2 linked regions of the Homo sapiens genome follow. The protein of the gene in region 1 purifies or fractionates together with the protein of each later gene. This does not show direct contact. Each region holds a gene or a part of one and is shown on either strand. Other genes may lie near its edges.

Region 1 (7,030 bases):
TCATAGGATGATTTTACAATGTGTAAAATGTTTGATTTTAATACAGTATGCAAAGTATATTTACGATATTTTATTTAAAAGCTTTATTGGTCCAAGATCATATTACTTGGGCTTGAGATGTGTGAACGTATGAGCTACTGAATTTTTTTTTTTGAGACAGAGTTTTCCTCTTGTCGCCGAGGCTGGAGTGCAATGGCGTGATCTCGGCTCACTGCAGCCTCCACCTCCTGGGTTCAGGTGATGATTCTCCTGCCTCAGCCTCCTGAGTAGCTGGGATTACAGGTGCCCGCCACCACGCCCAGCTGATTTTTGTATTTTTAGTAGAGATGGGGTTTCACCATGTTGGCCAGGCTGGTCTCGAACTCCTGACCTCAGGTGATCCACCTGCCTCAGCCTCCCAAAGTGCTGGGATCACAGGCAGGAGCCACTGTGCCTGGCTGAGCTTTTGATCTTTAACCAGTGTGATACAACATTTGTTTCTGTGCTTTTCAAGAAATCCTGTCTCATGGTAACCTGGGTGTTGATCTCGTGCTTTAGTTAGTAGCTTCTCCAAGGAGAAGGCGTGTTGAGGTTTAGTTGGAAAAATGGGCTTCTTTGATGGGTCTCACAGTTTTGGTGAGCCGGGATAGCTTGATAGGGTTTTGTTTTTTTTTTTTTTGAGTCAGAGCCTTGCTCTGTCACCCAGGCTGGAGTGCAGTGGCACAATCTGGGCTCACTGCAACCTCTGCCTCCTGGGTTCAAGCGATTCTCTTGCCTCAGCATCCTGAGTAGCTGGGATTACAGGCATGCACCACCATGCCTGGTTAATTTTTTTTATTTTTAGTAGAGACAGGGTTTCTCCATGTTGGCCAGGCTGGGTCTCGAACTCCTGACCTCCAGTGATCTGCCTGTCTTGGTGTTCCAAAGTGCTAGGATTACAGGCATGAGCCACCACGCCCAACCAGCTTGATAGTTTTTGTTTATTCAACAAATATTGAGCACCTGCTGTATGCTAGGCATTGTGCAAGGTGTTAGGGCTGATGCTTGAGCACAGTACCTCCACATCTGCAGTATGGGGAGAGAGAGATGATACCGTGATGAGATCTGTATTAGAGCTGTGACAAGGTGCTGTGGGAACACAGGATTTGTTACATATTCTTAATTTCTTTGGCCACTTAAACAGTTTACTTTTGTGGCACTTTAGAGTGGCTGTGCCCCTGGACGTTGTATACTGAAGTTACATTTACAAATGTAAACTCTCTGATCTAGGTGAAGTAGCTTCAAATAGAAGTGAGCAATATATTTGAATACTAAATTGATCTCTAAATGACCTCTGATGTGTCTTTTTAACTTGAAGATTGAGCATAAGGCTAATGTCCAGATCTGTCTGTTTAAATGGTCCCCCCACCCCCGCCTCCCGTAAGTCAGTAAGTTTGTATTCAAATTTTACATAGTTAAGCTCACTGATCTTTGGATTAGGGTTGTTGTTCTGTTTTTAGGTTCGTGATGGCTGTATTCAAGTATACTTTTGATGGAGTAGGGCATAAGTGATAAGAATGAGTGACATTCAACATGTTGCTGTCTAGACCCAACTTAAAGTCATGTAACTAAGGTATCAGAAAACTTTAATACAGTAACCTATCTGTTTAATAGGAAATTCTACCTTTAACATAGAAAGAAGTTCTCTGTACAGAAAAAGAAATTTACCTATTTCCAGTTTTTTTGTTTGTTTTTGAGAGGGTCTCACTCTCTAGCCTAGGCTGGAGTGCAGTGGCACGATCTCGGCTCACCTCAACCTCCATCTCCCAGTCTCAAGCAATTCTCCTGCCTCAGCCTATAGATAGCTGGGATTACAGGCGTGCGCCACTACCACCCTGTTAATTTTTGTATTTTTAGTAGAGATGGGGTTTTACCATGTTGGACAGGTTGGTCTTGAACTCCTGACCTCAAATGATCCACCTGCCTCTGCCTCCCAGAGTGTTGGGATTACAGGCATGAGCCACTGCACCCAGCTTTATTTCCAGTTGTTTTTATTCCATTAGTTGTTTTTTTTTTGAGACAGAGTTTTGCTCTGTCAACCAGGCTGGAGTGCAGTAGCACAATCTCGGCGCACTGCAATCTCTGCCTCCCGGGTTCAAGCTATTCTCCTGCCTCAGCCTCCTGAGTAGCTGGGACTATAGGCACCTGCTACCATGCCCAGCTAATTTTTGTATTTTTAGTAGATGGGGTTTCACCATATTGGCCAGGCTGATCTCGAACTCCCGACCTTGTGATGTGCCTGCCTCGGCCTCCCAAAGTGCTGGGATTATAGGTGTGAGCCACTGTGCCCAGCTTAAGTAGTCGTATGTTACTTTGATATTTCCAGTCACGGTAAGTATATTGATTACAATGAATTTGTTATTTGAGGACTAGCAGGAGAGTATTTTTTTTTTCCATAACAAAGAAACTTGAAGAAAAAAATTAATTCTGTAGTTTGCAGAGCCGGGAAAAGAAAATCTCCATTTCGTATGACTTCTTTTTTTTTTGAGACAGAGATTCACTCTTGTTGCCCAGGCTGGAGTGCAGTGGCGCGATCTCAGCTCACTGCAACCTCCGCTTCCTGGGTTCAAGCAATTCTCGTGCCTCAGCCTCCCGAGTAGCTGGGATTACAGGCACGTGCCACCATACCCGGCTAATTTTTTGTATTTTTAGTAGAGATGGAGTTTCACCGTGTTGGCCAGGCTGGTCTCGAAATCCTGACCTCAGGTGATCCACCCGCCTCAGCCTCCCGAAGTGCTGGGATTATAGGTGTGAGCCATCGCGCCCAGCCTTTGTATTACTTCTTTTACCAGTAAGACATCGTACCTCTCAGACTATTGATTTGAAATGGGGGTGTGGAGGGGATGATGATACTGGGAGAAAAGGGTGCTTTTGGAAAAACTCCTCTCCCTGGCTTTGAATTCTCATTTTGGATCATTATTTCCCAATAAGAATATCACTGTGTTAGGGCCAGGCACGGTGGCTCACGCCTGTAATCCCAGCACTTTGGGAGGCTAAAGCAGGCAGATCACGAGGTCAGGAGATCGAGACCATCCTGGCTAACACGGTGAAACCCCATCTCTATTAAAAAATACAAAAAATTAGCTGAGCTTGGTGGTGGGTGCCTGTAATCCCAGCTACCTGGGAGGCTGAGGCAGGAGAATGGCTGAGCCCGGGAGGCGGGGCTTGCAGTGAGCCTGGGCGACAGAGCAAGGCTCCGTCTCAAAAAACAAAACAAAACAAAAAAAGAATATCACTGTGTTGATGACAGCTTTGTTTTTCAAAGATCAAAAAAGATTTCAGCCCCTGCAGCTCCAAATAAGAGAGCAGAGTGACTTCCCTGTGATGGTGCCATCTAGTGGGACTGGTTCAGCCTCTTGGGCTGTCTCTTGAATTTCTCCTAACTATTCATAACATTTTTCAGTACTTTTTGATGTCCATAGAAGGAAGAAAGTCAGTGCCACTGTGGATTCTTTCCTAGTGGACAAGAGTGTTACAAGTAGCTACAGCCTTTGAACTTTCTGGTTGTTGTAAATCTTCTGTTGTATAACTTTCGAGTTTTTTCCACCTGCAAATTAGATATACACTCCATTACTTAGACTAAAACAAAATGGCCAAATCTCCACATCTATTACTTATATTTAAGTTGCTCATTACCTATATTTAGGTTTTTAATTTTTTATTTCTAATTTTCTTGCATAGTGCAAATTTTTAATTTTCTTGCATAGTGTGTTTATAGGTAGGTACTCAGTTTCTCAGCATATTTACTTCATAATAATGGTAAAACAAAAGTCATTTATTTTGGGCTTTGGGATGCACTATTTGGTTTTTGTTTAAAAGATTGACGTTTTCTGTCATGAACTGATGAGGGGAAAGTAGTAATGTGCACCCAAAAGTCTATAGCAGGCTCTCTAGTCTAGCTGCCCCTTTTTAGGAGGACCTGGAGCCATCGTCTTAGCAGTTTTGAGGTGATAAGGTTAAACTGGGTTGTGAACCTAGTAATTTTCTGGTTTTTTTTTTTTTTTTTTTTTTGAGACGGAATCTCACTCTGTCGCCCAGGCTGGAGTGCAGTGATGCAATCTCTACTCACTGCAAGCTCCGCCTCCCAGGTTCACGCCATTCTCCTGCCTCAGCCTCCCGAGTAGCTGGGACTGCAGGTGCCTGCCACCACGCACAGCTAATTTTTTGTATTTTTAGTAGAGACGGGGTTTCACCGTGTTAGCCAGGATGGTCTCGATCTCCTGACCTCGTGATCTGCCCACCTTGGCCTCCCAAAGTGCTGGGATTACAGGTATGGGCCACTGCACCCGGCTGCTAGTTCTTTATGTCTTGTTGACTTGACATGTGAGCTGTCCTACCTCTTTTTTTGAGACGGGGTCTCACTCTGTCACCTGGGCTAGAGTGCAGTGGCGCGATCTCGGCTCGCTGCAGCCTCTGCCTCCCAGGTTCAAGCGATTCTCTTGCCTCAGCCTCCCCAAGTAGCTAGGACTACAGGCGTGTGCCACTATTCTCAGCTAATTTTTATATTTTTAGTAGAGATGGGGTTTTGCCATGTTAGTTGGCCAGGATGGTCTCTCTCTCTTGACCTCATGATCCGCCCGCCTCGGCCTCCCAAATTGCTGTGATGACAGGCGTGAGCCACCGCGCCTGGCCTGTCCTACCTCTTTTTAAAGACCTCTTCCTGTAAGCACTGGATGATCTACTTCTAGTAATGTGAAACTGACTATATCTTGAATTCATATGTTTTCAATCAACCTGTTGCAGTTTATATTTCACACCCTGCTCCCTTTTGACAGTTTAAGTACAGATAGTCTCAGCAGTTCTGGAGACCATGTAAAGTAGGCAGAATTTCACCCTTGCATGCATTGTTACTTGTACCTAGTTGGATATCAATGCTAATACAGTAGCAAATACTTATAATACTGTGTGCCAGGTACTGTTCCAACAGTACAACAAAAGCAATAAGAAATGAATTTAGATCTTTTATAACAGGGATAATGGTTAACAAATCTGTACATAATCAACTCACTGGATTAATAGGCATTCTCCATTCTCTCTTTATAAGCCATACTGACTGATGCTTATCACATTGCTCCCACCAGTTGAATTATAGCCATGTCAATGATCATTTTACAATAACTTACACTTGTGTTGTAATTATTCTATTTAATACACAATTGCATAATGCAATGAAATATGATTGCAGGCTGGGCGCAGTGGCTTACGCCTGTAATCCCAGCACTTTGGGAGGCCGAGGCAGGCAGATCACGAGGTCAGGAGATCGAGACCGTCCTGGCCAACATGCCAAAACCCGTCTCTACTAAAAATACAAAAAATAAGCCGGGCGTGGTGGCATGTGCCTGTAATCCCAGCTACTCAGGAGGCTAAGGCGGGAGAATCACTTGAACCAGGGAGTCGGAGGTTGCAGTTAGCCGAGATCATGCCACTGCACTCCAGCCTGGGCGACAGAGCGAGACTCTGTCTCAAAAAAAAAAAAAAAGAAAGAAATATGATTGCAAAATGAAAGAATTGTTTCCAAGAGAACTAAGTTAACCGCCCTAGAAAGACTAGATAAGTCAGCACGCGCCTGTAGTCCCAGCTGCTCAGGAGGCTGAGGCAGGAGAATTGCTTGAACGTGGGAGGCAGAGGTTGCAGTGAGCTGAGATCGCGCCATTGCGCTCCAGCATGGCCAACAGAGTGCGCCTCCGTCTCAAAAAAAAAAAAAAAAAGTAAGTCAGCAAGGAGATATCTGTAAAAATTTATGATATTCTTTTAATCTGCAGGAATTCTTTACTTAAATCCTTGGCAAGTATCTTTTTTTTTTTTTTTTTTTTGAGACGGAGTTTCACTCTTGTTGCCCAGGCTGGAGTGCAATGGCATGATCTCGGCTCACCGCAACATCCGCCTCCCAGGTCCAAGTGATTCTCCTGCCTCAGCCTCCCAAATAGCTGGGATTACAGGCATGCGCCAACACGCCCGGCTAATTTTGTATTTTTATTAGAGGTGGGGTTTCTTCATGTTGGTCAGGTTGTTCTTGAACTTCCGACCTCAAGTGATCTGCCTACCTCGGCCTCCCAAAGTGCTGGGATTACAGGTGTGAGCCAGTGCGCCCGGCGGCAAGTATCTTTTAAGTTCTCACTTTTTTTTTTGGAGACGGAGTTTCACTCTTGTCGCCCAGGCTGGAGTGCAGTGGCATGATCTCTGCTCACAGCAATCTCCACCTCCCGGGTTCAAGCGATTCTGCTGCCTCAGCCTCCCGAGTGGCTGGGAGGTGCCCGCCACCATGCCCACCTAATTTTTGTATTTTTAATAGAGACGAGGTTTTACCATGTTGGCCAGGCTGGTCTCGAACTCCTGACCTCTGGAGTTCACCCGCCTTGGCCTCCCAAAGTGCTGGGATTACAGGCGTCAGCCACCGTGCCCGGGCCAAGGAACTCTTTTTCTATCTTTTATAAATTTTTAAGTCTGATACATCACATTATATAATCAAATTGACTTCTGAAAAGGTATTTAACCAACTGATACCTTTCTTTTCATGTAGTTCATTGCAGCAATTAGAAGCTTTCAGTTATGAATATCTAGTGTCAGCTTTTTCACATACCAAAGTCACTTTCATTTTTTAAAAATGTTTGTATGTCTTACATTTAATTACATGCCTGACAATTCTCAACAAGTATGAATGCTGAGAAATGGCCTATACTTATATTGATGCATTTTAAGGAACTGTGGATTAATTTACTTTAGTATTTATTTGATTTCCTCCTTATTTCACATGTAGTCAAGTACCAACACGTGCCTCTTTCTCTGAAATTTCTGAAGTGTTTTTCTGCCCCCATTGCTACTGCCTTAATCCAGACTGTTTTTATTCATAACTTGAAATTCTAGTTTGGAAGTCTTGCACTCTTTCTGTTCTTTTATTGGTTACCACAGAAATTACAACAGATATTTTTAACTTATCAAAGGTTAATGTTAATACCTTTGTCTTCCTCTTGGTCAGTACGAGGGCCTTGAAGATTTTTTTTTTTTTTTTTTT
Region 2 (7,030 bases), on another chromosome or scaffold:
ATGTGTCAGTGTAGGCCATGGATATGTATTATATTCTATGAGTTAAAATTCATTATCATCATTATTTTGTTGCTTACTGTTCCAGCATTGGCTATTTAGTTAGGATCTCCTTCAGGTTAGCTTCTGTGGCCTATCAACTGGCCCTCATTTTTTTTTTTTTCCTTCAAGCACTTACTTTATGGCACACCACAAGGTGTTCCAGGCTCATCTTGTGTTTTCTCTGACCCAACTCTGGAATCAGTTCTTTTTGTCTTTAGCCTATCCAGTCAAGATACCATTTTCTACAGTTACTTAGGTTAGTTCCTTTCTTCCTCATGCCTTTCAGAGTGGTTATGTTAGTTGTAATAGTTAGGTTCATTGTTAGTGTTTATATTTCATTTTGAGTTCCCCCTGCATCCTAGCTGATTTTAGTTGTTTTTGCGGTATGAATTATGACTGATTTCTGAGAGTCAGAGCTACACACAAAGGTATACTCAGAGAAGTGTCTTTCCCTTCTTATGCCTACTGCCCTGTTCCCATTCACCCCTTCTTTTCACCGCTTTCCCACCTACCCTGTATAGCTAACTTTGGTATCTGGATTATCTCGTGTTTCTTTCGCACAAGTGAACAGTTAGTTGTGTATTTTTTCACATCCTCTTCTTTCTTATACGAAGGTGACATGCTATATAGATAATTGTGTTTGCTTTTTTCACTTAATAGTATGTTTTAGGCCAGGCGTGGTGGCTCATGCCTGTAATCCCAGCACTTTAGGAGGCTGAGGTGGGCAGATTGCCTGAGGTCAGGATTTCAAGACTAGCCTGGCCAACATGGTGAAACCCCGTCTCTACTAAAAATACAAAAAAATTAGCCGGGTGTGGTGGTGGGCACCTGTAATCCCAGCCACTTGGAAGGCTGAGGCTGGAGAATCGCTTGAACCTGGGAGGCAGATGTTGCAGTGAGCCGAGATTGCACCACTGCACTCCAGCCTGGGTGACCGGCCGAGTGAGAATCCATCTCCAAAAAAAAAAAAAAAAAAAAAAAAGAATAGTGTGTCTTGAAAATCACCCCATATCTGTTCATAGAGATCTTCTTCATTCTTTTTTTTTTTTTGAGACGGAGTCTCGCTCTTTTGCCCAGGCCTGAGTGCATTGGCGCTATCTCGGCTCACTGCAAGCTCCGCCTCCCGGGTTCACGCCGTTCTGCTGCCTGAGCCTCCCGAGTAGCTGGGACTACAGGCGCCCACCACCGCGCCTGGCTAATTTTTTGTATTTTTAGTAGAGACGGGGTTTCACCGTGTTAGCCAGGATGGTCTCGATCTTCTGACCTTGTGATCCGCCCGCCTCAGCCTCCCAAAGTGCTAGGATTACAGGCATGAGCCACTGCGCCCGGCCCCTCATTAATTTTTAAAAACATCTTTATTGAGGCCAGGCATGGTGGCTCACGCCTGTAATCCCAGACTTTGGGAGGCTGAGGTGGGCAGATCATTTGAGGTCTGGAGTTTGAGGCCAGCCTGACCAACATGGTGAAACCCCTTTCTACTAAAAATACAAAAAAAATTAGCTGGGCATGGTGGTGCATGCATGTAGTCCCAGCTACCCGGGAAGCTGAGGCAGGAGTATCGCTTGAACCCGGGAGGCAGAGGTTGCAGAGAGCCGAGATCGCGCCACTGCACTCCAGCCAGGGCGACAGGGCGAGACCCGGTCTCAAGAAAACACAAACAAGCAAAAACATCTTTATTGAGATATAATTTACATACCTTACAATTGACCGATTTAAGTATACAATTGAGTGGTTTTTAGTACATACACAGTTATGCAAGCATCATCGCAATACATTTTAGAACATTTTTATCACCCTTAAAAGAAACCCTGATCCATTAGCAATTAGCAGTTACTTCCCATCCTGTCTTCCCCCAGCTCTAGGCAACCACAAATCCACTTTCTGACTTTATAAATTTGCCTGTTTTGGACATTTCATGTAAATGGGATCATACAATATGTGGTATTTTGTTACTGGCTTCTTCCACTTAGGATAATGTTTTCATGGTTCATCCATGTTGTCAGTGTTTCATTATTTTTATGGCTGAATAATATTCCATTTTATGGATATACCACCTTTTGTTTATCCATTTATCAGTTGATGGATTTTGGGTTTCTACTTATGCATTATTTTGAATTATGTTGCTATGAACATTGCCTCATTAATTTTTACAGCTGCATAGTACTTCATTACATGAATGTACCATAGTATGTACCATAGTACGTTATAATAGTTTATTCATCTACTCTCCTATCTATGGCCATTTAAGCTGCTTCCATTATCTTGCAGTTACAAACAGTGCTGCACGGTGAATAATTCTGTGCATATGTATTTTTGTATTGTTGGAGGTACATATTCAGGGTAGTTTCTAGAAGTGGAATTGCTGGGTTGAAAGGTAAATGCATATGTAGTTTTCTCAGATATAGTCAAATTTCCCTCCAGAAGGGTTGTACCAATTTCCAACAGTGTATGAGAATAGCGCCTGTTTCTCCACAACCTCGCCAACAGTGTGTGCTGTCATGCTTTAATTTTTGCAGTGAGAAATAGTGTCTAGTGTTGTTTTGTTTTAATATGCATATCTCTATGAATGATTTGAACATTTTTTCATATGTTTTAGAGCTAGTTGCGTCTTCTTTTGTGATTTATCTGTTCGTATTTTTTCTCCATTTGTCTACCAGGTTTTTGTTTTTCTGTTCTTTAGCTTTTTAAAAAAAATTGTGATAAAATATAAGCAACATACAATTTATCTTTTTTTTTTTTTTTTTTTTGAGATGGAGTCTCCCTCACCAGGCTGGAGTGCAATGGCGCGATCTCGGCTCACTGCAACCTCCACCTCTTGGGTTCAAGCAATTCTCCTGCCTCAGCCTCCCGAGTAGCTGGGACTACAGGCGCGTGCCACCATGCCCAGCCAATTTTTTTGTATTTTTAGCAGAGACAGGGTTTCACTGTGTTAGCCAGGATGGTCTCCATCTCCTGACCTCCTCATCCGCCTGCCTCAGCCTCCCAAAGTGCTGGGATTACAGGCGTGAGCCACTGCGCCTGACCCAATTTATCATTTTAACCATTTTTTAAGTGTGCCATTTTGTGCCATTAAATACATCCACATTGTTATGCAGCCATCACCACCATCCATCTCCGGAACTTTTTTCATCTTTTCAAACTGAAACTCTGTATCCATTAAACAGGAATTCCCATTCTTCCCTCCCCTAGCCCTGTGGCCACTATTCTACTTTCTGTTTCTATGAATTTGACTACTGTAGGTACGTTATATACATGGAATCGTACAATATTTGTCTTTTTATGACTGGCTTATTCGACTTACTGTAATGTCTTCAAGGTTCATCCACGTTGTAGCATATTTCGGAATTGCCTTCTTTTTTGTGACATGTGTCAGGATTACCTTCCTTTTTAAGGCTGAATAATAAATGTTTCATTGTATGTATATACTACATTTTGTTTAGCCATTCATCTGTCATGAACAGTTGGGTTGCTTTCACCATTTTTTTTTTTTTCTTAGCTTCAGCTTAAAGGAGGCCACCTTTCGACTATTGTAAGTAATGCTGTGTCCCTCAGTTGTAAAACGTTATTTATTTATTTAAAATAGTATGGTGCTCTTGTCACCCAGGCTGGAATGCAATGGCGTGATCACAGCTCACTGTAGCCTCAACCTTCTACCTCAACTGCCCTGAGTAGCTGGGACTACAGATGTGTACCACCATGCCCTGGCTAATTTTTAAATTTTTTGTAGAGATGGAGTCTCTCTGTGTTGCCCAGGCTGGTTTTGAACTCCTGGCCTCAAGCAATCCTTTCACCTCGGCTTCCCAAAGTGCTGGGACTAAAGGTGTGAGCCACCATGCCCATCCTGTTTCTCAGTTTTTAAGAGCTGTTTGTATATTAGGGGTATTAGTCCCTTGTCAGTGGTATATGTTGCAAATATTTTCTCCCAATTTGTTAGCTTTTAATTTTTTTTCTGAGTTTTTAAATTTTTTTTTGTCATGCAAAAATTTTTAAATTTTTATGTAGTTAAATGTATCACTCTTTTACTGTTTGTGAATTTTAAATCATATTTGGCCCTTCTCTACTACGTAATACTAAGTGTTAATACAAAGGTTAAAGAGGAATTCACCAGTATCTCCTTTAGTAGTTGTATGGTTTCATTTTTTATCATTTAGATTTCTAATTCATTTGCAAGTTTATTCTTGTGAGTTATCTTTTTCCAACAGTGAATACTGTTCCAGCAGTATTTAATACAAAGTTCATCTTGACTCTAGTGATTTGAGATGCCATCTTTGCCATATTTTTTATTTCCATATGTACTTGAGTCTAATTCTGGACCTCATCTTTTTGTGTACATATGCAGCAGTACCTCACTGTTTCATTATGAAGGCTTTGTACAGTAGGTTTTAATGTCTGTTATACCTATCCCCCCTTACAGTTTTTTTTTCATTGTTTTCCTAGTCTTAAATTTTTGTTTTTCCATATGAATTTTAGTATCAACTTGTCAATATTATCTTGTCAGTATTTGTATTGGGATTGCATTGAATGTATAAATTAACTTGGGAAGAACTGACATCTTTATATTTTTGAATCCTATCCAGGAACAGGGGATGTCATTTCATTTGTTCAAGTTAACTTTAGTGTCTTTTAATAGTGATTTAAACTTTTTCTTGCACAGTTTTAATTAACTTTATTCCTAAGTATTTAATGATCTTGTTGCTATTGCAAATGGGATTTTTCTCTACCATAATGTCTTCTTTTATGGTTTGTATATATGAAGGCTATTGATTTTTATGTATTAATCTTATATTGTGCAACTTCACTGAGTGTTGTTTTTTTTTTTTTTTTTTTTTTTTTTTTGAGAAGGAGTCTCACTCTGTCGCCCAGGCTGGAGTGCAGTGGGGCAATCTTGGCTCACTGCAACCTCCGCCTCCTGAGTTTAAGTGATTCTCCTGCCTCAGCCTCCTGAGTAGCTGGGATTACAGGCATGCGCCACCATGCCCGGCTGATTTTTTGTATTTTTGGTAGAGACAGGGTTTCACCATGTTGGTCAGGCTAGCCTCGAACTCCTGACTTCTTGATCCTCCTGCCTTGGCCTCCCAAAGTGCTGGGATTACAGGCGTGAGCCTGTAATTTTTGTATTTTTGGTAGAGACAGGGTTTCACCGTGTTGGCCAGGATGGTCTCGAACTGCTGACCTCAAGCAATCCACCCACCTCAGCCTCGCAGAGCACTGGGATTACAGGCATGAGCCACCATGCCCCGCCTGCTGAGTTATTATTGAATAAATTTTATCATTGATTTTGGGGTTTTCCAGGTAGTATATCATATTATCTACAATTAGTGATAGCTTTTCTTTACCCTTTTTTTTTTTTTTTTTTTTTTTTGAGACGGAGTTTCGCCCTTGTTGCCCAGGCTGGAGTGCAATGGTGCAATCTTAGCTCACCACAACCTCTGCTTCCTGGGTTCAAGCAATTCTCCTGCTTCACCCTCCCGAGTAGCTGGGATCACAGGCATGCGCCACCATGCCCAGCTAATTTTGTATTTTTAGTAGAGACGGGGTTTCTCCATGTTGGTCAGGCTGGTCTTGAACTCCCGACCTCAGATGATCCACTCACCTCAGCCTCCCAAAGTGCTGGGATTACAGGCGTGAGTCACTGTGCTTGGCCTTTACCCATTTTTATATCTCTAATTGATTTATCTCTTCTAATTTTATTGGCTAATATTGCACAGGTGGATAGTAGCAGAGATAGTGGACATTTTTGCTTTGTTCTTGATATTAATCTCTGAAATTAATGGACATGCCTCTGAAATAAGGTTTGCCCATGAAATAAGATTTTGGCTTTAGGACTAAGGTGTATTTATATATTAAAGTATCTCAATTTCTGTATTTTCCTGAGTATTTTTTATTATGAATAGATATTGAATTTTGTCAGACTTTCCCTTCTGTGGAGATAATCATGTAATTATTTTTCCCTTAGATGATTACATTGTGTTTTCACATGTGATGTGTGTTTTTTTGTTAGTATCTATTTTTTATTTTTTTATTTTTGATACGGGGTCTCACTTTGTCACCCAGGCCGGCATACAGTGGTGCAATTACTGCTTACTGCTGCCTCAACTTCTCAGGCTCAAATGATCCTCCTCCGTCAGCCTCCCAAGTAGCTGGGATTACAGGCATGTGCCACTATACCCAGCTAATTTTAAAATTTTTTTTGTAGAGATGAGGTCTCCCTATGTTGCCCAGACTGGTCTCAAACTCCTGCCTCAGCCTCCCAAAGTGCTGGGATTATAGGCAGATTACAGTCATGAGCCACCATGTCTGTCCGTTAGTATTTCTTTAAATTTCTCCAACATTTTCATTGCATTTCCTTTTATCTGGAAGTTGTTTATCAGGAGATTCTCAAATTTTTAGATAGACACACCTTTCTTCTGTTGGTGGTGATGGTCGTGTTAGTAAATTCTAGTTTTAAGCATTATGATTGGCAAGTGTTGTTTTTAGTATCTTTACTTGATGGAAGGTGTTTTCTTTGTGACATGAGCAGTTTTTGTGTGTGTGTGTGTGTGTGAATGTGCTGTGAGCACTGGAGAAGAATATATCATTTCTGTTATCAAGGTGTGGAGTTTGATATACATCTATATCATCTCCTCTGTTATGTTGTTTAGATCAATCATCTGTCTCCTCATTTTTTCTCCACTTGATTTGTCTTTAAAAAAATTTTTTTTTTTTGAGACAGGGTCTCACTGTGTATCCCAGGCTGGAATGCAGTGGTGTGATCATGGCTCACTGCAGCCTTGAACTCCTGGGTTCAAGTGATCCTCCCACTTCAGTCTGCTCAGTAGCTGGGACTACAGGTGCATATCACCATGCCTGGCTAATTTTTATTTTATTTATTTATTTATTTATTTATTTTAGAGATGGGGGTCTCACTATCTTGCCCAGGGTGGTCTCGGACTCCTGGAGTCAAAGGATCCTCCAACCCCAGCCTCCCAAAGTGCTGGGATTACAGGCATGA

What was found.
Region 2: the proteins of TLK2 (region 1) and CABIN1 purify together in Homo sapiens (affinity purification with mass spectrometry; 3 studies listed by BioGRID and IntAct, with this or other methods). This does not show direct contact.

The regions. Positions count from the first base shown.
Region 1 is NC_000017.11:62,481,810-62,488,839, forward strand, and holds part of TLK2 (serine/threonine-protein kinase tousled-like 2), read left to right. Parts: intron 1-7,030. UniProt on the Homo sapiens protein: Serine/threonine-protein kinase involved in the process of chromatin assembly and probably also DNA replication, transcription, repair, and chromosome segregation. Phosphorylates the chromatin assembly factors ASF1A and ASF1B.
Region 2 is NC_000022.11:24,014,274-24,021,303, forward strand, and holds part of CABIN1 (calcineurin-binding protein cabin-1), read left to right. Parts: intron 1-7,030. UniProt on the Homo sapiens protein: May be required for replication-independent chromatin assembly. May serve as a negative regulator of T-cell receptor (TCR) signaling via inhibition of calcineurin. Inhibition of activated calcineurin is dependent on both PKC and calcium signals.